Homo sapiens: one gene and its partners. The protein of the gene in region 2 purifies or fractionates together with the protein of the main gene of each other region. This does not show direct contact. Each region holds a gene or a part of one and is shown on either strand. Other genes may lie near its edges.

The links.
Region 1: the proteins of CIPC (region 2) and BMAL2 purify together in Homo sapiens (affinity purification with mass spectrometry; 2 studies listed by BioGRID and IntAct, with this or other methods). This does not show direct contact.
Region 3: the proteins of CIPC (region 2) and ZMYM4 purify together in Homo sapiens (affinity purification with mass spectrometry; 3 studies listed by BioGRID and IntAct, with this or other methods). This does not show direct contact.

Annotation. Positions count from the first base shown.
Region 1 is NC_000012.12:27,325,915-27,337,996, reverse strand, and holds the start of BMAL2 (basic helix-loop-helix ARNT-like protein 2), read right to left. Parts: upstream 5,162-12,082; 5' UTR 4,925-5,161; coding exon 4,894-4,924; coding exon of another isoform or gene 4,861-4,893; intron 1-4,860. UniProt on the Homo sapiens protein: Transcriptional activator which forms a core component of the circadian clock.
Region 2 is NC_000014.9:77,091,866-77,103,386, forward strand, and holds the start of CIPC (CLOCK-interacting pacemaker), read left to right. Parts: upstream 1-6,392; 5' UTR 6,393-6,496; intron 6,497-11,521.
Region 3 is NC_000001.11:35,416,235-35,424,512, forward strand, and holds the end of ZMYM4 (zinc finger MYM-type protein 4), read left to right. Parts: intron 1-2,208; coding exon 2,209-2,338; intron 2,339-3,235; coding exon 3,236-3,443; 3' UTR 3,444-5,824; downstream 5,825-8,278. UniProt on the Homo sapiens protein: Plays a role in the regulation of cell morphology and cytoskeletal organization.

The DNA of each region.
Region 1 (12,082 bases), on a different chromosome or scaffold from region 2:
TGTGGCAGACAGGCACAAGTGTTATCATAGGCACACAAAAAAACTACAGTGTGAAAATAGGAGGGGAGAATAATTTCAATTTGGGTGACGAGGAGATTCTGGGAAGGTTGCATGAGGAAAAGGGGAAAATCATTTGTTGAAGGTCAGAGTTCATTAAACAGTTTGTAATCATTATCTCATTTAATTCCCAAAACAACCTTCCAAGTTAGGTATTTTTACCCCTATTCTACAGATAAGGAAATTGGGGCTCAGAGAAGTTTTAAAATTTGACCAAGTTTACAAAGCTGACAAGTAATGAAACCAGAAATCACAAGCCCAGTGGCCTAGTTCCAAAGCTTATATTGATTTTCCCACACCAGTTCTCCTCCTCCACACATACAAAAAAAGTGACATCTGCGCTCAGCCTTCAAGCTTGATTGGTTAAGATTCTCCAGACCCATCTAGAGGGAGGGCAGGGGTATTCCAGGAACAGCCAACAGCCTGAGGAAAGGCCTGGAGGTGGGAAAGTGTACATTATGTTGGGGAAAGGCAGGTTCCTTCACATAATTGAGTATAGGACATATCACAGGGGCAAAGGTGGAGGCACTTTGGTCAAGAAGGGTAGTAGATGATTCTCTACTTTCCCTGTGATATGCTTGGAAAATATGATAAAGTATATTTCTAATCTACTTAAAAATGTATGAAATGTTGTAAGTAAAACACTTTGAATGTCTTGGAAGTTATTGTTTTATCACAATAGTCTTAACCTTCAATTCTAAATATCCTTTAATGCAAAGCATAGAGTGGAAGAATGATTCTCTTTACATTTCCTTTTCCTTTAGACTTCTTTGTTTTTAATCTCGCTGTAATGGTACCATCTAGAGATTTAAACCATAAGATTAAAGACTAGAGAAATGAAATACAAATAATTTAGCTACATAAATGTCAAATTTCCTATCATGCCAACCATTTAAGTATTTTCAGGTGAGAATGTTAACACTGTATAACTGAACTGATTTTAAGAAGTTTTAAGGAAGTTTAAAATACTTTTTTTTTTTTTTTTTTTTTTTGAGACAGTCTCGCTCTGTCACCCAGGCTGGAGTGCAGTGGAATGATCTCGACTCACTACAACCTCTGCCTCCCAGGTTCAAGTGATTCTCCCACCTCAGCCTCCTGAGCTGGGATTACAGGCACGCACCACCAACGCCGGACTAATTTTTGTATTTTTTAGTAGAGACAGGGTTTCACCATGTTGGCCAGGCTGGTTTCAAACTCCTGACCTCAGGTGATCCACCTGCCATAGCCTCCCAAAGTGCTGGGATTACAGGCGTGAGCCACCGCGCCCAGCCAGGTTTAAAAATATTTTAAGTTAAAAAATTGGGTGGGTAAATGGGATATTATAGCCTAGTGTGATACAATGTAAACAGTATGTGTCAGGGACCAGTAAGTGTGACAGCACCTGAGTAAGAGAAGGAAACAGGGTGCGGCAGGGCATACATAGCTAAGTATTGCATAAATTATCAGTAAATATCTAGAAATACTACACGCTACTACAGAGAACATATCTCACCTGCAGTCCTAGCTCCAATAAGGGCTTACACTGAAGGCTCTTAGTTCCCACTGGCTCCTGCCACTGGGAAGGGGTGAGGCACTGGGCAAGGCAGGGGCTACAGAGGGCTGGGATGCTGAGAACCAGGGGAGCCACTACAGGTAGTAACCTTGCAAAAACCAGGGCAGGAAATCACTGTCTCACAGAACAGGCGGATGTCTCAGGTGCCCTTGCCTCCTGTAGGGCACATGGCACACTCTGAGGTCCCTGAAAATGCTTATGACCATGATGATGCTGACTAATGACCCAGACCCCAAGCACCCGAGTAACTCAGTTGTCAATGCAGAGAAGTGGAGGTCTTCAATTAAATGAGACAACTGAAAACTAGGGCTACCAGAATGAATTGTTATTTGCTCATTTATGATTTCCTGAACATGACACAAATGGAGATTTCAAAAGGATGCTACCTCAATGTTCACAGCACAGAACATCATGCTTTTTAGAACTAGGGAGTCATTTCACAAGGACAAAGTAAACTGAAATCACTGTATTCTCCTACTGATATTTTGGCTTTCCCTATATATTTTAAACGTTAGTTTTTGTTTTTCCTGGAGTCAAACTTTGATGGAGTGGCAGTCCCTCCCCTCCTCCCCTTCTCCTTCCTTCACTCTCTCCTTCCTCCTCCTTTCCCCTCTCCTCCTCTCTTTACTTCACACCTCCTCTCTTGCCTTCTCCCTCCTCTCACTCTTTCTCTCTTTCCTTCTCTATTTTCCTCCCCCTTAAATATGTGAAAAGTAATTAGCCCATCCTGGTTTATCTTGAATAATGCATTTCTGGCTGAAATTTTGCCCAAGGATCCATGCCAGTAACAGGAGCTTAGGCAAAATTGATTGGGACATGACGTTTGATTTCTGACTCACAAAGTAAATTTAAACCACTGTAATTGCAGAACTACATGTAAAAGAATTGGATCTTACACTATCATAGGTGAAAACATGAGCTGGTAAGAAAACGGAAGGTGAGAAAGCTGCCCCACAGAGGCCTCAACCCCAGACCATCTCTGGCAGTGAGTCTTGGAAATGTGCTGCTCCCCAAGACTGCCCTCTTCCTACCCCAAGGATTCTGGAATCATTTATTAGGAGGACACCCAGTCACTTGGCAGCATGCTCAATTTCGGTGTTTACCATCTAAAACTGATGGGGTGGGGAAACCCATAGTTTGGTTTACACTGTTAAAAAAACACAAAACAAAACAAAACAAAACAAAGCAAAACAAAACCTTAGGGCTAGTTTTGTAGATGGCCACCAACTGGCCCAGAGGCCTGTTTTTGTTTTCCCTCTGGGAATAGGGAGAAATAGTAAAAATACATATACATTTTTTCCTCCTAGAGGTTTCGTTGAGCGTTCTATTTTTTACTACTCTTTAGATAAGCAGGTGTCTGGAAGTGAGCACACTTGCTCATTAGCACCACCAAGTCAGATGGGAAAGAAAAGAAAGGAGTATGGGCGACAGCCATGGATTTTAACTCTAGTTCTGTCATGTCCTGGCTGTATAACTGTGAGCCAGCCTCAGTTTTCTCATCTGTGAAATGGAGATACTACCTACCTCACAACGCTGTTGTAAGACTAACAGAAGCACCCCTGTGAAATGTCTGTGACATCTTAGGTACTCATACCTGCGGGCTCTCCCAGCCCGCACAGAAACATTGCTACCCTTAATTAAGAAAATTTAATTTTTATTATTCCCAGCTTTACATTTGGTATGCAAAGAGCAATAAACTATTAATCTAAAATAGTTAGATAAATAGCATTAAACTTTATCTAAAAGCTTGTTGTAAGTTCGTAAGACTTATCTGGGGAATTAGTAGGTGCATTTTCTTTGAATTAGTAGGTGCATTTTCACTTCCTTTCAGTTTGGCCAATTTTAACTCACAAGGGACAACACTTTCTTAATGGACCAGACAGCACTCACCAATTTCACAAAGCAAATTGAAGTTGTAAATTAATAACTACATTAAGTTAATGTTTTATGAAGCACTTACTATTTCCTAAGTATTGGGCTAAGCATTTTATTTGCATTCATATCTCATATCTCATTTACTCCTAACAATCCTATAAGGCAGACTGCATAGTTATCTCCATTTTACAGATGGGGGAACTTAGACTAAGAGATTTCAAATAACCTGGGTGACACAGACAGTAAAGGGCAGAGCTCAGTCACAAGACGGAGCAGAAAGGGTGTCAGAGCTTATAAACACCACACGTGCCATCTTCTATTTTCAACAAAGGGTTTACCTAAGACTACGAATATTCAAATGATCGAATTTCTGAAATCGCCCCATGATGTAAATTCCCACAATTATATTAGAATTTCGAAAGCCACCTCCTCTCATTGCCTTATTTCAGAGAAGAATCTAAAACTCTATCATCTTATTCCAAAAGGAAAGGGGAGAATTAACTGCTTCCCTGAACTTCTCTGCCAGTCTTCCTTCAGTTATTTCTGTTTTCCTGCCTCTCATTTGTCTTAAACAACAGCTATTTTGTATTCATTCCGTAATTGTGAGCAGTGGTCCCAAAGGCCCCGTTGTAAGGAACTACAGAATACTGCCAGTGAATACTAGCGAGAAGGAAAAAGCACCGCAAACTTCCAACTCCATTCACAAAAATACCACAGAAATACATAATCGAACAAGCTAACTCCACTGACGGCTTTCCTGAAGCTTCAGCGGTGAAAGACACGAGCCGCCTGTCGCTTATGGAGGGCTGTCGCGGAGCGGGCTGCGATCCCGGAGTGTGGCCCCGCGTCCACGCGCACCTGCCCACCTGCGCGCTCCACCGCGGGGCAGCGGTTCAAGCCGGGAAGCCGCGAGTATTATCAGCTCAGAGGGGAGGGGTTCACAGGAACCGGGCTAGGTCCGAGGCTGCTGACAACTGGTTTACACAAAAGAAAGAAGAAATATAGGAAGTCCCCGCAGCAGTGCATGCCATGCCGACGCCGACGCGGGCGCCCAGCAGTGGGTGGAGGCGGATGCTCCCAGCGCCGGGTGCAAGGTCCCCCGCTGGCTCCCTTTCGCCAATGCGCCCGGCCCGGGACCAAGACACCGCGTCCTGAGCGCCGGCGGCGACCCCAGCTCCCCTCCCCGCGTCCCGCTCCCCGGGAGGACGCGCCGGGCGCCGCGCCGCACCTGTGCCCCACGGGGCGGCCTTGTCCCACCGCCCCTCGGAGGCGATGCTCCGGCCCGAGAGGACAGGCGCGGGCGCTTCCCTCGGGGCAGCGGGGGCAGACCTGGCGTCGCGGGGACGCCCCCAGCGCGTCAGACGCCGCGCGCCCACCTGGGGCCGTCGCCTCGCCACCGGCAACCTCACCTCCCGCCGCAGCCTCCTCTTCCGCCGCCATCGCAGGAGCCACTTGGTCGGCTCCGCAGCCCCGCGGCTGGCAGCATGGAGGAGCCCCGGGCCCGCCCTGCCCCGGCCCAGGCGGCGGCTCTGGAGCAGGGAAGCGGGGACTGGCGGGCCCTGCCGGGTGCCGCGGCGGCCGCCACCGCAGCCCGTAGGCGCGCACGGGACGCCGCCCCGCAGCCCGGCCGGCAGCAGCTACTGAGCATGCGGACTGGAGCCAGCCGCCCGCCGCTCTGGGCGCCGCGGGGCTTCCCGGCGGGAAAGAGACCCGGGCCAAGGGCGGAGTCGCTGCGGACACCGCCCCGCCGAGCCCTCCCGCGAGCAGCAAAGCACTAAAAGGCCAGTTGAGTCCTTCTAGCAACCACCCTATTGAAAACAGGCTTCCATGCTCATAGTAAGCTTTGTCCCAGCATTCCGAAGATTGCAGTTGTTAGACCCTCGGGGCAAAGGTAAAGGATGAATGAAGATAATTGCACGGTGGGTTAGCGGAGGGCACGGGGCTAGGGTTGGGGAGGAGGGTGCTGGACGAGAGACCCTGCTCTTTTCTGCTTAAGGAAGGGCTTAGCTGCAGAGACGAGAGTGTAGATGACAGAGAGAGGGTCCCGAGGAAGCCGTTTTGCCTCCTGGAACGGTTGGGTAAATCCAGAAACAAGATCTTTTGGGCATCACTTGACAGCCCTACATCCTATGGCCACGTGTCTAGAATACACTGGTTTGCTGCCCTCCCACTGGTCCCTAGACCCATTCCTTGGTAATCTAGTAGAAGTAAGTAAAGGAAAGTCACAGTAGAGAAGACACCAAATCAAACTTTGCAACCAGCCTAAAGGTAATAACTTTCCTACAAGGACTCAATTCCAACGTCTTAACCAGCACCTTATGTGTCCTCAGGGCAGTACTTAGGGCCATTGTGAGAGGCTGGGCAGAGGGTTTGGAAGTGTGTTCCCAAGCAGAAGTGGGCATGACAGGAGAAAACTGTTGCAGGCTTAAGCAGGGGCTAGGACTTTAGAGGTAAGGGAGACGTGCTGAAAACTGTGCTGTCCTCAACACACACCAAGACACATCCCTAATCAAAACCAGTCTTGAAACGTCTCATTCCTAGCTTTGACTTGGAACTCCACCCCAAATTCTACCAACACCAACTTCTCCTGGCAGCTAGAAACAGTAATTCCATACAGGGTTTCCCGAATGTGATCAAACCTTGGCTTTCCAGACAAGTGTACACTATTTTGAGGTGGTTTACCAAGGGGTAACAGGTAGAATTAATTAGACCTGGGCTTTAAGATCTGGGTTAAAATGTAAATACTATTCTATACATGGCCTTGCTTACAATGCATTTTCCCCCTTATCGGCTCAGTGAGCCTCACAACCTCTTTCTTAATTCCTGTCTTAGTAGAGAAACAGAAGTTCAGAGATGTCGAGTATTTTGGCCAGGATCACTCAGCTAGTAGATAGTAGAAGCAAGACCATAAAAGTTAGGTCTCCTTCTTAGGAGTTCCTATTGTGGTGTCCAGTAAGCTTGCCTGTGAATCATTGCAGTCCCCGTTTCTTAGAAACGATGATTCACTTCCACCAAAGCCTGAAAGCAAGAGAAGGGGAATCCAGAATCTAAAATACGAAAGCAGGAAGGGTAATAATGCACAAACAAAGCCGACCTACAGCATTCCATGGGGCACAACCCTTTCATTGCTTAATAGGTATTCCCCTTACTGCTCAGGTTTAAAGCCTGCTTGCTCTCTTTTTTTCTTTATGCTCTGGAGCTTTACTTTCTAAGACATGATTTTTTTGTTTTTTAAAGAGTAGCTATATAACCCATAGGATAAGGCAGAGAGACATATAATGTCTTGCCAGATGGATAGGAAGGTAATCTCTCATTTCCAGTGAGTGGTTTTCTCATATTTTCAACTTGGAAAAAAAAATGTGAGAAAGGTGATTGGATGATTTGTATAATAGAATGCTAGAGAATTTGTGTAATAGAATGCACACAGTTCCTTCTGGTCAGCATGGTTCCCCTGCCAAAAGCCCTGGAGCTGCCTTGCTCTCCAGGAATCATTGCTTGCCTTTCACTTAATTTGTTCATTAATTTTCTTTCATTGCTAAGTACTCAGGCAAGAACAAATATTTTAAAGGTGGAACAAATACTCCTTTGTCCATCTGGAATTAGGAACCACGGCCTCACAAGCTGTAAACTCCTGTCCTTTTAGCATTCTGCTGGGATTGTAACAATATAACTTAGATTAGAGAGGAGTCCCTAAAGCCACTTAGATATTGTATTTGGTCCAAGAACAACAACAACAACAACAACAACAACAAAAAACAACAAGATAGAACCCAAACCCAAAACAACAAAAAACCACACCTGCTTCAGAGTGTAATTAAATTGAAGATACTATTTCCAATGATGCATAACAATAAATAACACAGAAGCCAGGAAGGGGAGAGAAGAGGGGGTGGAAAACAACAAGGGGAAAAGAAGGCTGAACATATATTTATTACCATTGGGAACTGTACACTTAAAATGGTAAAGATGGTAAATAAAAAAAAAACATTACATAGGCCGGGCATGGTGGCTCACGCCTGTAATCTCAGCACTTTGGGAGGCCACGGCAGGCGGATCACGAGGTCAGGATGTGCAGACCGTCCTAGCTCACACGGTGAAACCCCGTCTCTACTAAATATACAAAAAATTAGCTGGGTGTGGTGGCGGGCACCTGTAATCCCAGCTACTCGGGAGGCTGAGGCAGGAGAATTGCTTGAACCCAGGAGGGGGAGGTTGCAATGAGCTGAGATCACGCCACTGCACTCCAGCCTGGGTGACAGAGCAAGACTCCATCTCAAATAAATAAATAAATAAATAGCAACTACCCATTATTGATTTCCTAAGTGACTGGGGAAAATAAATTATTAATGTTTAAAACTACCTTTTCTTCCTACCCTGCCCCCAGCATCCTGTGGAGGGTGAATCCTGGGGAAGATGCTTGGATTTGCTGGGCAGATTGATGAGTGCAGTTTGGAGAAACAAGTAGGCCAACACTCTCCCATATGTTTAGAGAGAGAAGAGGATCTATGGTGGGCTTCTGGTATAGGAAAGATGAGCTTGAGCATGGTCTAAGGGAAGGAAAAGCAGAGAGGTAATTGGAGGACAGAGCATTCCTGAGACAGAGAGGGTGGTAAAGGAGGTGGTGCAGCTGCCTTAAGGAGAGGAAATTTGCTATCTTTTTTTAATTTTAATTTTTTTTTTACATAGAGTCTCGCTCTATCGCCCAGGCTGGAGTGTAGTGTGATTTCGGCTCACTGCAACTCTGCCTCCCTGGGTTCAAGCGATTCTCATGCCTCAGCCTCCTGAGTAGCTATGATTACTGGCATGTGCCACCACACACAGCTAAATTTTTTGTATTTTCAGTAGAGACGGGGTTTCACCATGTTGGTCAGGCTGGTCTCGAACTCATGACCTCATGTGATCTGCCTGCCTTAGCCTCCCAAAGTGCTGGGATTACAGGCGTGAGCCACTGCACCTAGCCAGGAAATTTGAGATATCTTAAAGCGGTATTTAGGGAACTTCATTGTGTAATGCAAACCCTCTTACATTATTTCCCTGGAAAATAACAACTTCAGCAAAAGCTGCATTCATTTTCTCAATGCTTTTGGAGTCGTATTTATGTTTTTATTAAAAGTGAAAACATTTTGAGATTGGCCTTAGGTGGAAAGCAGGGCCACCCACAAAAATAGTCATTTAATTAACTTGTTCACATGTATTTATTGAGCACCTGCTGTGTGCCAGGCACTGTTGTAAGCACTGACTTCTGTATTTTACCTACTGTGCATCAGTTACTTTATATATATATATTCTCACAAAAACCAATGAGCAGGTATTAGTTTCTTTTTCTGTTAGCTCAGTGGTTCCCAAAATTCAATGTACATGAGAATGTGCACAATTTTAGACCCACCCCCAGAGACTGATTTAGTAGGTTTGGGGTGAATCACACTAAGTCCTTATTTCAAATGTGCTTCCTAGCTGATTTTGAAAGTTGCTCTGAGTACTCTCATCTAGGAAATACTGCTTTAACTTATCAAAAATCAATTTTCTTAAGCTGGGTTGTTGCAGTATGGTATGTACACCGGGGAAGCAGCGGGGAGAGAAGCAGTATTTCTTAGGGACAGGAATAGCAATATACTAAAATTCTGAGCAAACTGCAAGGAAGGACAAAACTTAGGACAAGAATGAGGGAATAGTTGTGCACACATCTACTTTTATGTGGAGTTGCTTACACTTTTTCCCTTAGGGATTATGCGTTTGTATGTGTGTATAAGCATCAATAACTCAACTGATGTTTACTTTTACAGTTTTTAAACACTCTTAAAGCAGTTATGGTATCCCAAGTCTTCCTCAGTCCTCTCGGTATTATATACAATCATACAAGAGGGTTCTCCAAGTTCTGTTCCTGATTTTTTTACCCAAGAAGACAAAAAGGCTGGATGCGGTGGCTCATGCCTGCAATCCCAGCACTTTGGGAGGCCAAGCGAGCACATCACTGAGGTCAGGAGTTTGAGACCAGCCTGGCCAACATGGTGAAGCCCCGTCTCTACTAAAGATACAAAAATTAGCCAGGCACGGTGGCAGGAACCTAATCACAGCTAGTCGGGAGGCCAAGGCAGAATTGCTTAAACCTGGGAGGTGGAGGTAGCAGTGAGCCAAGACCACGCCATTGCACTCCAGCCTGGGCGACAGAGTGAGACTCCGTCTCAAAAAAAAAAAAAAAAGATATTAGGCTGAGTATTGACAGTTTACTTTTCCTACCATGAGTTTCTCCCTTTTGAAGAGACTTACAAGTCTTCCTGTGTTTAGGAGTTTGATCATGAATGTTAAGAGGTAAAGTAATTCAGATAACTTGATGGTAGTTTAGCAATCTCACCTGAGAAATGTTTAATTTTCATTAGTCAGAGATCATCTTCCCAATTTTGACAAAGCAATTGAGCTAATAGTAATTAGACCACCCCACCCTTGGCTGGATCTTGGGAGGAAATAAGTTGATCAGGGTCCCCATTTCTGATATGAGCTCTAGAGGAGATGGACCAATAGATTATCTACTCTGATGAATAGGATCTGGGAGGAATGGAAAAAGCACTAAAAAGACCAAGGCCTGTTTGTATGATGTCCATCTTCCTGTATGATGTCCAGAGACCCAATCCTGTTCTGTGAAAAATGTTAATGGACCAACCTTCAGTTCCGATGTAGGCAGCAGATCCAACACCACAATCTAGGTGCCGTGGCTTCAGGTAAGAATCATTGCAATAAACCTGTGTGGCATCATCTTGATTACCTTGTAGTTTGTCGAAAGCACCCTAATTTGGTTCTGGTATCATGTGGCCATGTTCTTTAGGTTAGTCTCATCCCAGTAGAAGGGACGTGATGCTTGATTAGTTTTAAATCAATTGCCCATCAGGTACTGGTTTAGGACTACATGGATGGCACAGTCATGGACAATAAGATGTGAGGGTTACTTTGCTTAGAATGCTTCTGGAAAAGATTTTCTTTGCTCTTAAAAAGTGGAGATGCAAGGCCGGGCATGGTGGCTCATGCCTATAATCCCAGCATTTTGGGAGGCCGAGGTGGGCAGATCACCTGGAGTCAGGAGTTTGAGACCAGCCTGGCCAACATGGTGAAACCCTGTCTCTACTAAAAAAAAAAAAATTAAAAAAAAAAAAACAAAACTAAAATTAGCTGGGCGTGATGGCGCACACCTGTAGTCCCAGCTACTTGGGAGGCTGAGGCAGGAGAATCGCTTGAACCCAGGAGGCGAAGGTTGCAGTGAGCCGAGATCGCGCCATTGCACTCCGGCCTGGGCCGCAGAGTGAGACTCTGTTGTTTTTTCTTTTAAAGAAAAAAAAAAAAAGTGGAAATGCAGAAGTATTTCTCTTTTTAAGGCCTTACCTGTTGTGTGAGGATTTGATGCTTAGAGTCTCTGTAGTCATCTAGCTTCTCTGAGAAAACAAGACCAAGGACAAAGCCAACACCCTTGTCATGACAAAGTAGAGAAATGGAAAACAGGGTCTTGCTATGGTTGCCCAGGCTGGCTTCAAGGGATCCTCCTGCCTCAGCCTCCTGAGTAGCTGGGACTACAGGTGCATGCTCTTGGATTCCTTGATGTTTGTGAGATGCTAAAATGACTACTCTGGAAGCTATCTTGTGTCTTATTGTTACATAAGATACTCGCTTTCCTTATCATTGAAGCCATTTTTACTTGTGTTTTCTGTCACTTGTGGTCAAAAGTATGCAAAGTAATAACTCTGGCCCTATCACTCCATGTATACTCCTGAGATCCTAGAAGCATATGAGTTGTCAATGAAGTTAATTTGTCAATGGAGTTCACTCTATGATTTGGAGGAGTAGGGAACACTGGACTTGGGTTCAAGGGCAACTTATTACTTGTGTTTTAGGCAAGTCACAATCACTCAGCCTCATGGTCATCTATAAAATGATGGTAATTATGTAATTACAGAGTAGTTGTAAAAAACAAGTGAAGGCATTTTGTGTACAAATATAAGTTCTTTGTATCACTAGATGTTTTTGAAAGATGAATTTAGAGTCTCCGAGTTTGCTGTAATGCCCAAATTTTAACATTCAGTGTTTTCAATGTTGTGTCTGACAGTGGCATTATTGAAATGATGTATGTCAGGGAACAGCTGGAGAACAATGAGGCTGAATGGGATTCCCACGGGCTTCCTCAAGGCTCAGTGGAAAAAGTCATGATGATTGTCAGTGTCTTCCACAGCACGGGAGGTAGTGGTACCTGGGCCACATATTCCTATGCTATTTTGAGGCATTTTCAATTTAGTGCTTGCTAATTGGTTTTGACCAAGTTGGATAGTTGTATATAAGCTATGCATCCAATAAGTACCTGAAAGTACAGCACAGTTCGTGTAGCCTATATGTTTTTAGCTACAGATTTGAATGGAGATTTTAAATACAAACTTCAAATATTTTGTTCTTGATGTGATCTTCAAGTGTAAAAGTTAGACAGTAATTTACATTAACTAAATAGTCTTTCTTGAGTTTTGGGTAACACCTATCTCAAAACTCAAAAATAAAACCAAAAAACTTCATCAACAGAAATTTTGTAAACATAGTTTTTATTCTTATCTTACCTTCAATGAAATT
Region 2 (11,521 bases):
TGACTGGTTGGGGCAGAAATCATAGGGGTGTGGAAAATTAGTCCTTGTGTGCTGAGTTCTGGGTAGGGGGCCCACAGGACTGGTTGATTCCTGAGTCACAGATCCGATTGAAGTCAATGAGTTGCCAGAATGCAAAAGTCTGAAAAACATCTCAAAAGACCAATCTTAGGTTCTAAAATAGTGATTACCTATAGGAGCATTTGGGGAAGTTACAAATTTTGTGACTTCTGAAACAATGGCTGGTTATCATTTTTATTTTTATTTTCTTTTTGAAACTGAGTTTCGCTCTTGTTGCCCAGGCTGGAGTGCAATGGCGCTATCTCAGCTCATCGCAACCTCCGCCTCCTGGGTTCAAGTGATTTTCCTGCCTCGGCCTCCTGAGTAGCTGGGATCACAGGCATGCGCCACCATGCCCGGCTAATTTTTGTATTTTTATTAGAGACAGGGTTTCTCCATTTGGTCAGGCTGGTCTCGAACTCCCGACCTCAGGTGATCTGCCCACCTCGGCCTCCCAAAGTGCTGGGATTACAGGCATGAGTCACCACGCCCAGCCATGGCTTGTTATCATTTAATTATACATATATTTTAGCAGAATTCAGGTCCATCCCATAATCCCAATCTTGTGGTTTTTCATTACTTTTACCAAAGTGGTTTCGGTCCCTTTTCATTACTTTCACAAAAGTGGTTTCAGTAACCCCCTTCTAGCAAAGAGGGGGTTAGTTTCATGGAGGGCCTATTATCATTCTTGCTTCAAAGTTAAATTATAAACTAAATGCCTCCCATGGTTAGCTTGGCCTACACCCAGGAATGAGTGAGGACAGCCAGCCTATGAGGCAAAACCAAGATGGAGTCAGCCATGTTAGACTTCTCTTACCGTCATAATCTTTGCAAAGGCAGTTTTACTCTGACATCAAAAGGTGAAGCAGAGGACACAAAAATCCTCGCTGCACATCCTCCATGAGTCAGCCAAAACTAGTCCAGCAATGGTGGTCAGTTTTTAGGAAGGGATGCTTTGTGAAACTGGCAAGCTGTCACCCTGAAACTGTAAAGAGGGTGGGGGAGTGCAGTCACTACCTCAGGTGACTGGCTAATAGGGATAAAGGAATGGGGTGTCCATTTCTTGTTTTCTAAAGCTGGTTTCTGCCTACTCTTTAGGAAATAATTCTGGTTAAAGATTAATAAGGAAGGGGCATACTAAGGCGTGTCTGACCTCTCTCCCCATCACGGCCAGACATTCAGTTTTCAGGGTTTCTCTGGGGACTGCTTGGCCAAGAGGGGGTCATTCCAGTTAGCTGAAGGGCTTAAGATTTTATTTTTATTCCTCATAGTGCTTCTAGCTCCCCACTGGCCTCCTCCTTAGCATAGCAGGAAAGGCTGAGATATTACCCATTTCCACTTTAACATGGAGGCTGTCAAGCAAAGTGGCAAGGACTCTGGAATTCAAATCCTGGCTCTACCACTTACCACGGGTGACCTTGGCAAGTGACGTGGGCCTCCATATCTGAGCCTCCTGCTCTGTAAAAAGAAAATAATGATACTACACCCATCTCATAGACAGTGGGAGGATTAAATGAATAAATGTAGGCAAATCACTTAGGACAGCATCTGGCAAATAATAAGCACTACGTGTTGTTATGGAAGAATTTGTCTTGGGTTCTAGAGTATCTTGGTGTCAAGCAATTCCTTAAAGGAATTTCAAGTATCAGCAAGAAGACAGAGGGCTATGTGGGAAGGGTTTACACTGTCTCTAAAATCAAAACCTTCACCTGTATATGAACAGCCTGACCATAACCTGAATATTACCCTTTTAGTGTACCTGCTCTGCCAAATACTTCCCTAAAATATGAGCCAAGAACCAGTCTGGCTGGTGAGGGCCTTGTTACCTGACTGCTAAGGGAAAAAAGGTCATACATCCCACTATCACTGGCCTCTGCCTCTGCCATCTGGCACCTGTAGATCCCCCTGCCCACACAGGCTGGAGCCCCTCTCTTCTCTCACTGACCCATGAGACACACTTACCACTCCATCAAATCCTATTTAAAGACTTATGAAGTGATCAGCACCAATAATGCTAGATGCTAGATTCAAACTACAGGATAACTATTTTACAGACGGCCAAACTGAGGTTCAGGAAAATGAAATCAATGGTTCCCAAACACCAGTCCAAGAACTGTTGCCAGTCCTTGTGGTGATGTTTTCACCAGTCTTCAGCCAAACTGGAAAAATAAGACTAAAAGCTTTAAGTTTTTCATACACCCGAAATTATTCTATTTTTAAATTGTGAGGTTATGTCCTATCTTCCCTTCTGTGTATACGGAAAAGATATCAAAATGACCCTTCTTTTGTAAAATGATATTGATAGGAGCTGGAATTTGAAACTAGATCACTGACTTTCACCGTCTCCTATTACACTATTTTAATTACTTCTAAATTTTTTTTTTTTTTTTTTTTGAGACGGAGTCTCGCTCTGTCACCCAGGCTGGAGTGCAGTGGCACAATTTCAGCTCACTGCAGCCTCCGCCTCCTGGATTCAAGCAATTCTCCTGCCTCAGCCCCCTGAGTGGCTGGGATTAAAGGCGCATGCCACCATGCCCAGCTAATTTTTGTATTTTCAGTAGAGACGGGGTTTCACCACGTTGGCCAGGCTGGTCTTGAACTCCTGACCTAGTGATCTGCCCGCCTTGGCCTCCCAAAGTGCTGGGATTACAGGTGTGAGCCACTGCGCCTGGCCCACTTTTAAATATTTTTAAATGACTTTAATTTTAAATTCAACAATTATTAAACAATCGTTTATAAATATTTTAAATTGTATAACATAATACACTTAAAATATCTTCAAATAAAACTCGGCCCATGGCTGACTCTTCATGGTATCCTAGGCAGGGTTAAAAACTCAAATCCTCACACGGATAGGCAGGTTACAATTTCAAGAAGTAGATGGGAAAAAAAAAGAAACATTCGCAAGTCCCTAAATGTAGGATTTAAGGGCGCATGTCTCCCCCTGCTGGTTGTGGTGGTAGGAAACCGAACCTAGACCACAATGGTACTGGGGAGAACTTGAATTGGAAAGGACCCTACAGCAAGAAGAATAGGTGCTTCAGAACCCACTATCCATCACAGGGTCCTTACCCCATCCATCATAGGGTCCTTACTCCAACCAAGAGTAAAGAGAGTAAAGTGAGTGAAGGTTAAAGAATTCGTGGCACCAGTAAACTATCAATAGATGCTGATTTACAAATCTTGGTAAATTAATAGGAAAGGAAGAAAAACGTTTACGGTGGTTTAGCTACATAAAAATATTCACTATCAATCTTCATGAATTGCTTATTCTGTATATCTAATTATATAGAATCATAGCATAAAATAATCATAAAAATTATGCCTATCATTAGTCTTGATTCATTTGGTTCCATTACAATACTTGTCTGAAGCTTAAGTTATTGGTACAGCATGGCTGTCTGCTCAAGATGTAGGTAAAGTCAAGGAAGTTTGGTTTATTTGCCCCTTCGGAGGACTAAGAGGGCCTCATGCTTTCGCATATTTCACTGATTCTTTTTTGCTTGGTATGCATTATCCCCTCACCTGCTTCCATTATTGCAAACCCAACTTTCAAGCTGTCTTTAAAGCTTTACCTGCTGGTCTCTTTCTACTCCAACAACCGAAAAAGAAAGTTTTTTTTTTCTCCCTTAATGTTATTGTTTTGTTCAGAATCTTTTGGTAGTTATCCCATTCTCTTTCATATTGCTTATTACATCATGTCTTATTTCCCATATCAGATTGTAAGTTATTTGAAGGCAGACTTTTATTCTTTTTTTTTTTGAATTTTATTTTTGTTTTGTTTTTTATTTAAGTTCAGGGATACGTGTGCAGATTCGTTACATAGGTAAACTTGTGTCATGGCGGTTTGTTGTACAGATGATTTCGTTACCCAGGTATTAAGCCTAGTATCCATGCTGCTGTTTTTTAAATTTTTTATTTCCATAGGTTTTTGGGGAACAGGTGGCATTTTGGTTATATGAGTAAGTTCTTAAGCGGTGATTTGTGAGATTTTGGTGAACCCATCACCTGAGCAGTATACACTGCACCCAATTTGTAGTCTTTTATCCCTCACCCCCTTCCCACCCTTTCCCCTTGAGTCCCCAAAGTCCACTGTATCATCCTTATGCCTTTACATCCTCATAGCTTAACTCCCACTTATGAGTGAGAACATACGATGTTTGGGTTTCTATTCCTTAGTTACTTCACTTAGAATATAAGTCTCCAATCTCATCCAGGTTGCTGCAAATGCCATTAATTCATTCCTCTCATAGTTTATTTATTTGCCCCTTCGGAAAACTAAGATAGGACCACACCTCATGCTTTTGCTTATTTCATTGATTCTTTTTTTGCTTTGTGTGCGTCGTACTCTCACCCACTTCCATTACTGCAAATCCAACTTTTAGCTATCCTTAAAGATTTACCTACTGATCTCTTCCTACTCCAACAACCAAAAAAAAACAAAGTTTTTTTTTCTCCCTTTATTTTATTAATTAGGTTTTGTTCACAATCTTCTGGTACTTATCCCATTCTCTTTCATATTATTTATTACAGCGCGTCTTATTTCCCATATCAGATTTTAAGTTATCTGAAGGCAGATTGTTTTATTCCACTTCAAAAGAAGGCAATATATTAATAGCTTCATGGATAAAAGCCACGGTTTTCGTTTGTTTGTTTTGGTGAGACGGAGATTTGTTGCCCAGGCTGGAGTGCAATGGCACGATCTCGGCTCACCGCATCCTCCGCCTCCCAGGTTCAAGCGATTATCCTGCCTCAGCCTCCCGAGGATTACAGGCATGTGCCACCACGCCCAGCTAATTTTGTATTTTTAGTAGAGACGGGGTTTCACCGTGTTGCCCAGGCTGATCTTGAACTCCTGACCTCAGGTGATCCGCCCGCCTCGGCCTCCCAAAGTGCTGGGATTACAGGCGTCAGCCACTGTGCCTGGCCAAAGCCATGGGTTTTTAGTTGAGTCCTAATGGGCAAAAACGCCACACAACTGGAAAAAAATACCACCTGCGTCATAAACTTGTAAGGAATCATAAAAGGATGCATATAAAGCGGCCCGGCTCCTAATTACTTGGTAATTGTTAACTATTGCTTTCACTCTGTCCCCAAAACAAAAGCCTTACATGGTGTAGGCATATTACTTGTTGGTAAAGCTGACTACTAACAAGTACACCCATACCCAGTAATACATTAGAATTACCTGTGTCTAGAGGACTAACGTGATTAACCACGACCTAGCAGCACTTACAAAGGCCTGGATGACCAGTATAAAACAATTCCCCACTATCTAAATCAGCACTGTCCAATATAACTTTCTGCGATGCTGGGAATGGGCTATATATAATCTGCACTGTCCAATAAAGAGGTCACTGAGCTCCTGAAATGTGGCTAGTACAACTGAGAAACTTATCCAGTCGTTAGTGACCATCTTACTGGACAGCTCAGCTCTTGAATCTGCCTCGACCCGTCAACTCTTTAAACTCGCCCATGTCCTCTTTTTCACTAGCGAAATAATTCTTTTTCTAAGTAACCTTCACTGATTCAAGGCATCAGAACGTCAACTGATCCCAAGCCCTTTTTTTCTTTAGCTGTTACACACGTGTGTTCACCGTGAACCTTCACCAAGAAACAGCATCCATATAAAACCCATAGCACATGACAAAGTCAGTCAAACATCAAAGGTCATGAAATCATCTACTTAAAATAACTCATCGCGCCTCGACCTCGTGAAGCACGGTCTCGAGGGTGGACGGGAACAAAAAACAAACAGGGCGACAGGCGTAGAGAAAATGCGAGGAGCACGCGGGGAGGTCTGGCACCCCTGTCACGGCGACTCCAGGCTGAGGCCGCCCGCACGCCCGCTCTCCCACGCCGGGCACTGTCGCTCCCGGCACGCGCACAGGCCGGACACGACTCGCCCCGGCCCCCACCCCCAACGGCGGCACGGCGGCACGGCGGCACGCACCAAGACAGTGCGAGAGTCGCTCCTCTCTCTGTATCGACTCCAAGCCGGCCCCACCCCCGGCTCCTCTGAACCCCGCCTGGAAACCTTGCCCAAGCCGCTCATTGCTCAAGGCCCCCGTACAAAATGGCGGCGAGGCCTGAGGAACCAACCATAGAGACGCCCGCCGGCCGCGGACAGAGCGTAGGCCTCTGAGCGCTGGCCCCGCCCCGCGCCGGCCTGGTCTTCCGGCGGGGGCGGGGAAAGGGCGCATTTCCAAGGGCCCTTCTAGGAGAACAGCGTGCGGTCTCCATGGTGCCGGGTCATCCGAGTCGGGTCACGTGGCTGGCGAAAGCCGTCGCGGAGGCGTGGGGAGGAGAAATGGGCGGGAGGCTGTGGGGATAGCGAGACACCCAGCGACGACGAGGTTGTCATGGTGCCGCGGGGCCGTGCTCGCGCATGCGCCACCTGACCCACAGGCCGGTCGTGGAGCTGCGACCCCGGCCCTAGGTGAGAAAGGGAGGGCTCGGTCCGGGAGGAGGGGAGCAGGGATGACGGCGGGAGAGGGATTGGGCGAGGAGCGTGGGGAAAGGAGGTGGAAGTAGGGGAGAGAGGAAGAGGAGCGAGTAGGCAAGAGGGGCAAACCGGGACTTTCGGAGGACGGAGAGCCAAATGGTGGGAGCAGGGCTTTGGTTTGCTGTGAGGGGCGTGGGAGAGGGAATCGCGGGTGAGGAGGGGGCTGCGTGTGGGGAGGAGGCTTGTGTGAGGGGCAGGTGGGCCCTGGTCTAGCCCTGGGCGCAACCGCCAGCCGGCTGGGCGGGGAGAGAGCTTGGAGTCCAGCCCGGCTGGGAGCTGAGGGCCAAGCAATGGGCAGGTGAGTGGGCGCCAGAACTAGTAACTGGGCGAGGGTCCTGGGCTTCCGGTTTGAGGTCGGGGGTGGTACCCTGTTCTGGCTCCAGGGCACAGGTGTGCTGCCTTTTCCAGAGACCTGCCGTCACCCTCGTTGCTGGTTGTTTCCCCTGAGTGGCCAGCTTGCCAGGCTTGGTGTCGGGGGTAGTGTTTCTGGGGAGAAGGTGGGCAGTGCCAAGTAAGGAGTTAAGTGGTTAGTGGGTGGGTTCGGGGGAGCTCTGATCCCGGCCCAGGTCACAGGCTGGAGCTAGGCTCCCTGTTATTGCTCAAGTCCTGGCAGTATGCATTGCCTGGGCGTTTGCCCTGGAAGGCTGGTGGTATGCCAGTCACAGCACAGTACTAGGGTCTGCCCAGTTTTGCCCTGCTGAGCTGGCAGGCTGGTGGATGCCTGGAGGGTGCACATGCTGCCTGGCACAGATGCAACGTGGGCTGGTGCGAATGGGTAGGTGGGCACTGTTACTGTGAACTAATTGCAGCAGGGGATCGGAGAAAGTTCTCTAAGCTCATCTCCCCTTTGAAAGGTGAAAATAGAGCCAAACTGGTCTAAAACATAGGAAATTGTATGGAATTGGGGTTCAGGATCTTTGACACGAATTTTCAGCCAAGTTGGAGAAATGGAATGAATGTGGAAGGGAAGATGAATATTAGACATTTAGGTAGACAGGGTTTTTCCACTGTTAAGATACCCAGACATTCTCCCAGAATGGTATCCCTGAATATGCAGGCCAAAAGAAAATGACTTCGGAGAAAAGCTAGTAATGTATTTATAATTCTAACGGGGATTACTCAAGGTTTTCTTTCTGTGACCTTATCACTTTATTGTATTTAAGCCTCTGGTTGGGCTTTTACCTCACACTTCTGTCCAGGCACACATGTTATACACGTGACACATTTTAAAGGGAACTTGAGCTTCCAGGAATGTTGCCAAGTGTCTATAAAAGGAGAGATCTGAAAGCAGCATTTCAGATCCTTTTCTTGTAACCCTGGATCTCCTTTTTAATCATAAGGACAAATCTTCACAAAGATTGTTTGTGGATTAGATCAACCCTTAATTTGGATGGTGGATTTGTCCCTGACGTTTCAACTTAGAATAAGGGGTAGATCAAATATCTGTTTCCTGCAGGGGACCAGACGTGGAGGTTAGATCTTAAGGTGACCGTGGTGTTTGGAAATGCAGAATCTTGACCTTCAAGCTGTTCAGGTATTTCTGTGACTGCTAAGCTACTAGAGCTGTCAGAGACTCAGCAGGTCAGAGATTTGTTGGAATTTATTACTCTATTGAATGCCTCATGTTAATTGTTGGGGGCTGAGGTTGCAAAGATGAAAAAAACAACTCGAGGTTGAGGAGACAAATAATTAGACTAATGTCAGAAGTGCAAAAAGAGTAGTAAGAGCTAAATGCTTTGGAGCACTTGCTAGGATTTTGAATTTTGTCCCCTTATATAAACTTATATATTTATTGATTCACTTTCTTTCTTTCTTTTTTTTTTTTTTTTTTTGAGACGGAGTCTCACTCTGTCACCCAGGCTGGAGTGCAGAGGCACAATTTCGGCTTACTACAATCTCTGCCTCCCAGGTTCAAGCTATTCTCGTGCCTCAGCCTCTTGAGAAGCTGGGATTACAGGCACACATCCCCAAGCCCAGCTAATTTTTGTGTTTTTAGTAGAGACAGGGTTTCACCATATTGGCCAGGCTGGTCTCCAACTCCTGACCTCAGGTGATCTGCCCGCCTGTGCCTCAAAGTGCTGCTGGGATTATAGACGTGAGCCACCTTGCCTGGCTCTGATTCTCTCTTTTCTTTTCTTTTCTCTTCTTTTTTTTTTTTCTTTTGACGGAGTCTCACTCTTCACCCAGGCTGGAGGGCAGTGGCAACATCTCGGCTCACTGCAACTCCACATCCCAGGTTCAAGGGATTCTCCTGCCTCACCCTCCCAAGTAGCTAGGATTACAGATGTGTGCCACCACACCCAGCTAATTTTTGTATTTTTAGTAGAGACAGGGTTTCACCATGTTGGCCAGGCTGGTCTCGAACTCCTGACCTCAGGTGATCCATCCACCTCTGCCTCCCAAAGTGCTGGGATTATAGGTGTGAGCCACCACACCCGGCCTGATTCACTTTCCATTATGAGTTTTAGTGTGTACTATCCTCTCTGGGAAACTTTTGGACAATGTGTTACATATACATGCATAAGAGGCCCAATTAGGGTAAATTCTGACAGTTTTGGAGCCTAAATTAGCCCTTTTAATGCAGAATAAGGTACATGTGTTTGTAAAGCAGCGTGAGTGATTTCCAGTCTATGCCAGGAAGCAGGAAGCAGAAAGAACACAGTGGGTAAGAGCTTAGTAATCCATTTTCAACTCCTAGTCAGTGTGAGCATGTAACTTTATTGTAAACTAATATCTAAGAGGAAAAAAATCAAGCAACTTCCCGAGGTTTTCAGACTTTGCCTTGCAAATTTTGGGGTTGAGAGCACCAGTAGTAAGTGAGGCTTTATGTGGTGCTATGTGTGAGTGGGTCCCTCAGCCACTCCCAGGAGGGCAGTGCTGCTACTCCTCCGAAAGAGTAAAGTTTGGGGAGGGATGTAGCCCTTTGTTCTACATCCCATGTGAGCCTCCCTGGCTGCAATGCTAAGGCTTTTTGCTGCTTAAGAGAACTTTACTGAAGATAGAGGCTTTCATATTTTTAATCATTTTCATATGAAAAATAGTCAATTTGCCATCCTAAAGTCGATTTTACATTCTTTATTTCCAACTGCCACCAACTCCCCAGGATCTAAATTTAGCATCTGTTCTCTTTTTAACTTACCTCTGTGATACCTTTCCTCACCTACCATAAGGGTCATAGTTGACCCTCCCATAACAAAAGACAGGTTAACAAGAGAAAAACATAACAGTTTTATTTAATCAAAGTTTTTTTTATGACACAGGAGTCTTCAGAAGTGAAGCCTCCCAAACTCAGGGAAAACTGTCTATTTTTATGGTTAGGTTTGATGAAGAATGGACGGCTGTGTAGAAATATGATTGGACAAAAAGGGTATGATCTGGCTGGGCATGGTGGCTTATGCCTGTAATCCCAGCACTTTGGGAGGCTGAGGTGGGAGGATTGCTTGAGTCCAGGAGGTTGAGACCAGCTTGGGCAACATAGCAAGACCCAGTCTCTACAAAAAATTTAAAAATTAGCTGGGTGTGGTGGTATGCGCCTGGAGTCCCAGCTACTCAGGAGGCTAGGGCAGGAGGATCACTTTAGCCCAGGAGGTCGAGTCTGCAGTTAGCTGTGATCGTGCCACTGCGCTCTAGCCTGAGCAACAGCGTGTGATCCATCTATAAATAAAAAACAAAACAAAAACAAAAAGAGTATGATCTAATAGTAATGGACTGAGGTGGGAAACCCAGCAAGGTCTGTCTGTCCAGAATTATTCTTGACCTCTGTGTAGCATTCCTTCCTCTCTGTTATAGGGCAGGACCCATTCTGGAATGAGGGTTTTATGATCTGCTATCGGACAAGACAGGTCAGATAATTTCTTTATGGCCAGGAAGTCGAGGCTGCAGTGAGCTGTGTTTGTGGCCTTGCACTCCAGCCTGGGCGACAGAGCAAGACACAGTCTCAGAAAAAAACAAAAAGCAACAACAAAGTGCTCATTATGCTAAAGTGCCATACTTGGGAGTATTATTTTCTGAGCCTCAAAAACCGATTGTCAGTGTTTCAGTATTTTGACTCCATGATCAATTATCTCTTATCCTACAAATTCTCAATAAGCCAGAATAAATTCCTGTGTATTTTCTGTAGCTCTATTGACTACACTTTAATAATAATAGCAAGACCTTTTTCATTGTTTTGCCGCAAGGATTGTAGAAGACTAAATTGGGATGCATTATCTAAAGTACCTGTAAAATAATCCATGTTTAGTAAGATAATGTGAAACTTCAAGAACCTAAGAACCTAAGTAAGGTTCTTAATTAGTTGCAACTAACATGAGCTACCCTCCTAATCTAAATCAACAGCCTGGTCCGACATGAATTAGTTTGAATGCCCATCCACAAGCCTCATCTACTTCCATTTTGGAGATGGCTTCTATTCACTTTTGGACAGTATTATTTTAGGAAAATTATACTATGCACATTTGTTGAATTTCATACAAAAGGATCCAATTTAATTAGAGATATAGTTTTACACTTTAGTCTACTTTTTAAGCTGGGCCGTCCATGCTGTCAAATTTCATAGCTGTCAGATAGACATTGCTTTTGCATAGTTCTCTGCAAGTTGTGACAGTGCCACTGTTTATCTTTTATGCACATAGGATTAAACGTGTGACCTGTGGAAGAGTGCTTGATTTGATGTCAGTTGAATGAGGAAGCCAGTCCCCTTAAATGAGTTAGATACGGGGCAAAATGATTTTTACTTGGAATTGTGTTTAAAATTCATTCTCATTCAGTTCAGTTTGTGTTCCCTTTAGTCTGCTCCTACAGTATGCAAAAGTACGAGCAAGAGGGTTGCTTATAAGCATCCTTGTCTTCTATTTAATTTTATTTTGAACTGCTTCTAGGGTAGTTAATGTTCTTCACTAGATCTTATATTAGCAGGAATGTCCAGACTTGGCACTCCAGGGTATTCCAGATACAGTGGTA
Region 3 (8,278 bases), on a different chromosome or scaffold from region 2:
TTCAAAAACAGCCTATTAAATAAGTTTGTTTTTAATGTTCAGAAACTTAATCTTGGTATTATAGGATTAGAAATTAAATTTATTATTTTTTGAATAGAATCATAAGTCCTGAACTTCCCAAAATCAGTTTCTGAGAGTGAAATACATTTTTTGAATGTGAGAATTTAAATCACTGAAACTAAAATCTGTATTTGTGATGTTCAACTTTGTATAAACTTTTTTCTGAATTGTTCATTTACTAAGATTATCTTTTTCACCTAATGTCTGTGTCCTGTTTGCTTAGTTTTATATATATGTAACCCACTTTGTGCTCTCAATTGATTTTTATTTATTTATTTATTTATTTTGAGATGAAGTCTCACTCTGTCACCCAGGTTGGAGTGCAGTGGTGTGATCTCAGCTCACTGCAGACTTCGCCTCCCAGGTTCAAGCAATTCTCCTGCCTCAGCCTCCCAAGTAGCTGGGACTACAGGCATGTGCTACCACGCCTGGCTAATTTTTGTATTTTTAATAGAGACGGGGTTTCACCATATTGGGCAAGCTGGTCTCGAACTCCTGACCTCAGGTGATCCACCCGCCTCGGCCTCTCAAAGTGCTGGGATTACAGGCGTGAGCCACCATGCCTGGCCTCAGTTGGTATTAACTGGGGGAGGGAAAGGCAGGTGGATAATGTTTCCCTGTTTGCTGATTGGGTGCTTGACATGATTAGTAGTGAATTCAGCTTGCTTTCTAAGTGAGTAACTAGCAAAGTCTTTCTATTTAGCTAGCTGCTAAATGGAAAATGGGTGAGTTTTGTTAAAGTAATAATGCAGGAAGCTGGGGAAAGTCCTATACCGGTTGTTAAGAGCAGATATAGGCTGAGTGCAATGGCTCATGCTTGTAATCCCAATATTTTGGGAGGCTCATGCGGGAGGATTGCTTGACCCCAGGAGTTTGAGGCTGTAGTGAGCTGTGATGGAGTCACTGCACTCTAGCCTGGGCAACAGAGTGAGACCCTGTCTCCCAAAAAAAAAAAAAAAAGAAAGAAAACCTTTTTTCCTTAGGTCCATCTAGTGTTCTCTTGAGGAGTGAATGGAAAAAGTGGGAAAGAAATAGCCCACTTTCCGTATCTTCACCCTGACTTCCTTATATAATGCTTGGCCTCTGCAAAATACTGTTGGGGAAAAATGGTTTGTTCTTTTCTTACCAAATAGTAACTCTGCTGATAATTTCTCTTCCCAACAAAGATGCCATTTCTCACAATATTCGAACAAATAAACTTGAGCAGATGCCCAGTACTAGTGCCCCACAGTAGAAATATTCTCATAGAGATGACAGCTTCTGCTGAGTTCAGTGGCTTGTACCTGTAGTCCCAGCTACTCCAAAGGCTGTGGCAAGAGGATCACTTGAACCCAGGAGTTCAAGGCTGCGGAGATTCAAGGCTGCTGTGATCACACCATCATGCTCCAGGCTGGGCAACAGAGTGAGACCCTGTCTCTTAAAAGAGAGATGGCGACCGGGCACGGTGGTTCATGCCTGTAATCCCAGCACTTTGGGAGGCCGAGGTGGGCTGATCACCTGAGGTCAGGAGTTCGAGACCAGACTGGCCAACATGGTGAAAACCTGTCTCTACTAAAAATACAAAAAAATTAGCTGGGCATGGTGGCAGGCGCCTGTAATCCCAGCTACTTGGGAGGCTGAGGCAGGAGAATCCTTGAACCTGGGTGGAGGCTGCAGTGAGCGGAGATTTCGCCGTTGCACTCCGTCCTGGGCAAGAAGAGCAAAGTTCCGTCTCAAAAAAAAAAAAAGAGATGGCAACTTCTGTCTTGATCTCTACTGTAGGAGAAAAACATGTGGAACCCTTCTTTCTGCTTTATCTTGATATGTCTCAGGAACCCTGTGCCTAATGAAGTTTATTAATAAAGTCAGGCTCAGAATAGAGACGTTTTCCAGTGCCAGTGCCATACTTTTTGTCATGGTGCCCCCACTTTGGTGAGCAGGGGAGCATAAAATTCATGGGATAGGGACTTTGTTTAATGCCATAGAATCCAGCACTTAAAATAATGTCTGGCACCTTCATAGGCACTCAGTATTTGTTGAATGAGTGTGAGTGAGTGAAAGGGAGGAAATGACAAAGTTCTGGCTGCGAAGCAAAGCTCATTGGTGTCTTGAGACTCAAAGAATAGACTTTTCTAATATAATCCTTTGATTATTATTTCCTGTCTCAAGATAAACTGACTGTTGGCAAGAGGAAACGAAATGAAGATGATGAGGTTCCAGTGGGGGTGGAGATGGCAGAGAATACTGACAATCCACTAAGATGCCCAGTCCGACTTTATGAGTTTTACCTGTCAAAATGGTAATCTTTCTCTGAACTGAATGTAGTGCACTCAGAAGGCAGTTAACATATTTTGGATTTCAGATGCTTGAACATCAGAAAAGTAGCTTGCCCGTGGCTTTAGACAAGGATTTACCATGAATTTTTTCCCCATTGTCATATCTATGTGGATTTTGAACCACAAAACAAATTACCTTGTCTTCATAATTATTTTATGAAAATGTCTTCAAAAGCAAGAATCACTGCTATTGTTTGATCTTTACAACTGTTGTACAACCTTTATGTGATACCTAATCTGTAGTTATTTTGTTATTTGTATAGAAAAGAAATTTTGTTTTGCTAAAGCTATAATAGAAAAACAATTTTTAAGGAATTGAAATTTTCTAAGTAGTCCTTTTCTTAGAGGAACTTTATGATTTTAGAGTTGTAACACTTTTTTTTCTGAAAGAAATGTAATAGCTTCATTTGCCCTTTGATAATGTGTATTGAGTGCCCTTGGAGTTCATTCCAGGATATTGGGCACTTCCAATATGTGGTGCTTGGCCATAGTGTCACATGTGAGTTGACTTTTTTGTTGCTCTTAATAATGTTTGAAGTACTAAAGTTTATGATTTACACTTTGTCTTATATTAACTTTATACTCACTTCCAATCCATTGTGATTTCAGTTGATTCCTGGGAGGAAATATTCCTGTAAACTATTTATCTCTGTGGGTACCTTGCTTTCCCCATTGTGAGTCACAGTGGAGAAAGGTTGAGAGCCATATTAGGTTGGTGCAAAAATAATTGCAGTTTTTGCCCTTACTTTTAATTACTTTTAATGGCAAAAACCTCAGTTTACTTAAGAATAGTACATATTTCCTATACTCTCTGATTTCTAATTTTCTTTTTTCTCTTTTTTTTTTTCCCCTGTGGATAGTTCTGAAAGTGTGAAGCAAAGGAATGATGTGTTTTACCTTCAACCTGAGCGCTCCTGTGTCCCGAATAGCCCCATGTGGTACTCCACATTCCCGATAGACCCTGGAACCCTGGACACCATGTTAACACGTATTCTCATGGTGAGGGAGGTACATGAAGAACTTGCCAAAGCCAAATCTGAAGACTCTGATGTTGAATTATCAGATTAAAACGGAAGTGAGGTTCTTATTTTCATACATATTGGTATGCACCAAACTGTGAATGCATCCAGCTGTTGGAAAATGATGTATAAGTCTAAGTCCTCTTGACTTGACCATAAGATCATGGAAAACAGATGACTTGTGAACCCCACAGTGTGGATGTGCAAATGAAAATTGAAGGAAAGAATATGAACTGAGAAATGTTCTTTGGCAGTGATATAGTTCTTAGACATCTTCAGAATGACTAATTTCTCCGAGTGGTGCATAATCTTATTTTGTTTGGGAGTAACAAATCGTGGAATATTTTTAAGGAAAACTGTTGTATAAAACTTTACCATAGTAACCTTAGACCTTAGAGAGGTAGCTTTGGAGTGAAACTTTGGCTGCAATAGGCTACTTTGGCAAGCCCTCCGTAAAAGTCAGAGGAGAGATCAGTACAGAGCTAAGAGTGACATCAAATGAGGACTGTGGGACCCAGATTTGAAGACCCAATAAAAATACTCAACTTTTTAAAAAAGATAGTGAAGTGGTCTTGATTGATTTTGATTTTCACTGCCAAGCCAATCATGTGAAGGACAGAAGCTTTTGCCATGGGCCCCTCACATCAGGGAAAATGACCTTCACTGCTGTTAACAGTAATGTGTCCCTTTCATTTTCTGGATCAAGCCTTCTCAGCGGTGGGTCTGGATGTGGGTAAACTAAGGTAAAGGGGATGATATTCCACAAACTAATTATGCACACAGAAAATCTGTGGAGCCTATCAGACCCCAAGTGTCTTGAAATGTTTGTAGAAACCCACTAAAATGCCCCTTCTCTGGGTGTGGGCCCTTATTGCAGCTGTCTCACAGCCTGAGCTGTGGTACAGAGAAATGGGGGTTCTCCTTTTATTTTCATTTTTTTTCCCCAATGGCAGCTTTTCTCCCGTTGTTTTACCTTCCTATTTCCCAAACAGTTCCTCTTATTTTGTCTTTTGCACCAGTTTCTGGAGGCCCTTGTCATTTCAAAAAGGATAGTCTCTTTTCTTACTCTGGCAAACCTGTGAGTGATTCCACAAAGATACAGTATTACTTAGCTATCTGAATTATGATAGAAAAGGTCCTAGTTAGGTTCCTATATAAAGCATTTGGAAGATGACCTTGTTGCCCTTGAAACTTGAAAATAGGGATTCTGGGGTGAGGATACAAAGACATTGTCTTGCATATCCATAAGCAGGTCTTAGAGCATTATTCCAAACTCTAGCTGTTTCAGTAGTTCTATGAGGATTGCAAGTCATAGGTGTGTGTGGCATATCAGTCCATCTCCCTCATCTCCATTCTCAGTTTCTTCCCCACAAAATTTGGAATCAAAGCTTTTATGACGTTTGCCAATTGCAGAACTTCTTCAGCTAAGGTTAATTTGACGCTATGATAAAACTGAGAGATGTCAAAAAGCCTCTTAGAAATTTTAATCTTGAAAGACTTTTCAGGGTATCTCATTTTTTAGGTGGGGGTGGCAGGTGTATTTCTTTTTTAACAAATAAAAGGCATTTAAGTAAAACTAAAATGAAAAAAGTAGGCCTTCTGACATTGTGTACTTGGTGGTTCTGTCCCTCTGCCTGTAACAAATCTCATTTTTGTTACCAAGAACTGTATGAAAGAAGTAAATCCACCCCGATTCTGTATGATTAATTCCATCTGTGTTTGTCATTTCTGACTGGAAAACTTCTTACTCCATACCTTGTTCGATATGGAGGACAAATAATTGGATTGTCTGATAAGTCTGCCAATAAACTATCCAGAAATAGCAAGTGTAATAGTCCCCACTATACGAATTTTATGGTTTGTATAAACACTAACATTTTCCCCTTCTGTAGTTGTATGAAAAAACAAATATTGTTAGCATAGTAGATAAATTGTTATGAAATACCAGAAAAAAAAATCTGTATCTTTTACTGAGAACACCCAATACCCAGATAAATGACTGTATCAGGATTTCATTTGCATGTTAGTCCACAGAGTTGCCCAGAACCCTAAATTTATTCATAAGAGAAAATATTGATTAATTATTGGTCATTCCTCATAAGTGTAGCTGTTGATGTGTGCGTCTGATTATTGCTTTTTTAATTTTATGAAAATTGTGTAAAATTACATTTTTTTTCCAGGGGAGAAAAAAACATCAAACAAAAACATCTAAATCATCCTTTTTGTTCTTTTTCAGTTTTTAACCACTTTTAGGTTTTCCCCTTACAGAAACCACAGAAATATTCCCTTAGAATAAAATAGTATATTTGTATTTGATGGGTGAGTTCTTCTTCTTTACGTCTTAAAAGAATTTGAAATCTCTTTTTCTGATTGACCTTATTGGTATGACCCAGCAATTAGTAAAATTACAAAGAAAGAGAGCAGTTTCCGAGAAAGAAATTTTTTTTATGTAGTCCAGTCAACATATTTTTTCATTGCAAGTTCTTTTATTTCCTTTTTTCCATCAAAAGACTTGTTCCCATTTTTAGCTAATTTACTGACTATATTCAAAGTCCCAACAGGTAGAAATATCAGAGATCATTTATACATATCATTTCAGGCAAACTTTTTTGAGATTTACAAAGCCTACATCAGTTCAACTTTAATGAAATTGTAAGACTAGAATAAAGGATATGTTCATTCTTAAGTATAAATACATGTTTAAAACAGGAATGTAAGACTAAATAGCATTTTCCTTCGACTTCAGAGTTGTCTTGGTATTATGCAGCTGTACTTTCAAATTCCGTATCGACTTTCTACCTACCTGCCTTGTGGCAATCCTAAATTTATAAAACAGGTTTTCCCAAAAGATCTAATGTAAAATGAATTTCTATTAATGAATTCAGAATTTAATTTTCCAAAGAAGTCTCCTAGGGTATTGAGTTGAAGTTTTAGGAAAGAAGCAATCATACCCTGAACTCCTCTAGACTAGCACTTGTCTGTTACACTGTGCTATCATCATTGAAGAGAATAGTGATTGAGAGGCAATGCTATGTAGTGGAGAGATCATAGGCGTCGAAGCCTAGTGTTTCTACTTACTGGTTGTATAACTTTAGGTAAATTACTTAACCTCAGGCCAGGCACGGTGGCTCACACTTGTAATCCCAGCACTTTGGGAGGTCGAGGCAGGAGGATCATGAGGTCAGGAGATCGAGACCATCCTAGCTAACATGGTGAAACCCTGTCTCTACTAAAAATACAAAAGTTAGCCGGGCGTGGTGGCGGGCGCCTGTAGTCCCAGCTACTCGGGAGGCTGAGGCAGGAGAATGGCGTGAACCCGGGAGGCGGAGCTTACAGTGAGCCGAGATCGTGCCACTGCACTCCAGCCTGGGCAACAGAGCGAGACTCCGTCTCAAAAAAATAAATAAAAAAATAAGTAAATAAAAATTAACCTCTCTGTGCCTCAGTTTTGTTATCTATAAAGTGGGTATAACTCCCTTATTAAGTTGTGCCTGGCACATGGTAGGCTTTCAAATGTCAGATATTTTTTATTACATGCAAATTTCCTGGCCTGTACTAACACATTAAATAAATGTTAATTCCCACACTACAGTCTGAATTTTTACTAAGTATAGCACTTTGGCTTCTGCAAAACATAATACTCTATTTATATAACCAATTCTACATATTTGAATCAAACAAAATTACAAATTCTTCACTTGTGCTTATGTGCATATCAATAGTAATCAACATCACAAGAATCCATTGATATTTTCACTATATTGAAAAATGGGGCTGGGCACGATGGCTCGTGCCTGTGATCCCAGCACTTCGGGAGGCCAAGATGGACAGATCACTTGAGGTCAGGAGCTCGAGACCAGCCTGGCCAACATGGTGAAACCCCATCTCTACTAAAAGTACAAAAATTAGCTGGGCGTGGTGGCAGGTGCCTATAATCCCAGCTGCTTCAGAGGCTGATGCAGGAAAATCACCTGAACCTGGGAGGCGGAGGTTGCAGTGAGCCGAGATCAGGCCACTACACTGTCCAGCCAGGGCAACAGAGTAAGACTGTCTCAAAAAAAAAGAAAAAAGAAAGAAATGGGCATGTATATCAGTATATATAGGAACAGCATATGATAGAGTTTATTAGTTTTTTTCTTTATATTTCTTTTTGTTTGTTTTGAGACACAGTCTCACTGTTGCTCAGGCTGGAGTGCAGCGGTGCGATCTTGGCTCACTACAACTTCCGCCTCCTGGGTTCTAGTGATTCTTCTGCCTCAGCCTCCTAAGTAGCTGGGATTACAGGTGTATGCCACCACACCTGGCTAATTTTTGTATTTTTAGTAGAGACGGGGTTTTGCCATGTTGGCCAGGCTGTTCTCAAACTCCTGACCTCAAGTGATCTGCCCACCTCAGCCTCCCAAGTGTTGGGATTACAGGTGTGAACCACCACGCCTGGCTAATATTTCTTTTTTTCTTTGAGATGGAGTCTCGCTCTGTTGCCTAGGCTGGAGTGCAGTGGCTCGATCTTGGTTCACTGCAACCTCTGCCTCCTGGGTTCAAGTGATTCTCCTGCCTCAGCCTCCTGAGTAGCTGGGACTACAGGTGCACGCCACCATGCCTGGCTAATTTTTGTATTTGATGGGGTTTCACTATGTTGGGCAGGCTGGTCTCGAACTCCTGACCTCAGGTGATCTGCTGCCTGCCTTGGCCTCCCAAAGTGCTGGGATTACAGGCATGAGCCACTACATCTGGCCTATTTATATTTCTTTGCATATGAATGCCAGGTCATAAATTTATTTTTTAATTGGGAGAAAAACCTTAAATCTATGAAACTTCTTTTACTTGGTAGGTTATATATGTCATCAGTTTAGGAACAAGACAACGGTACAACAGCAATCTCCC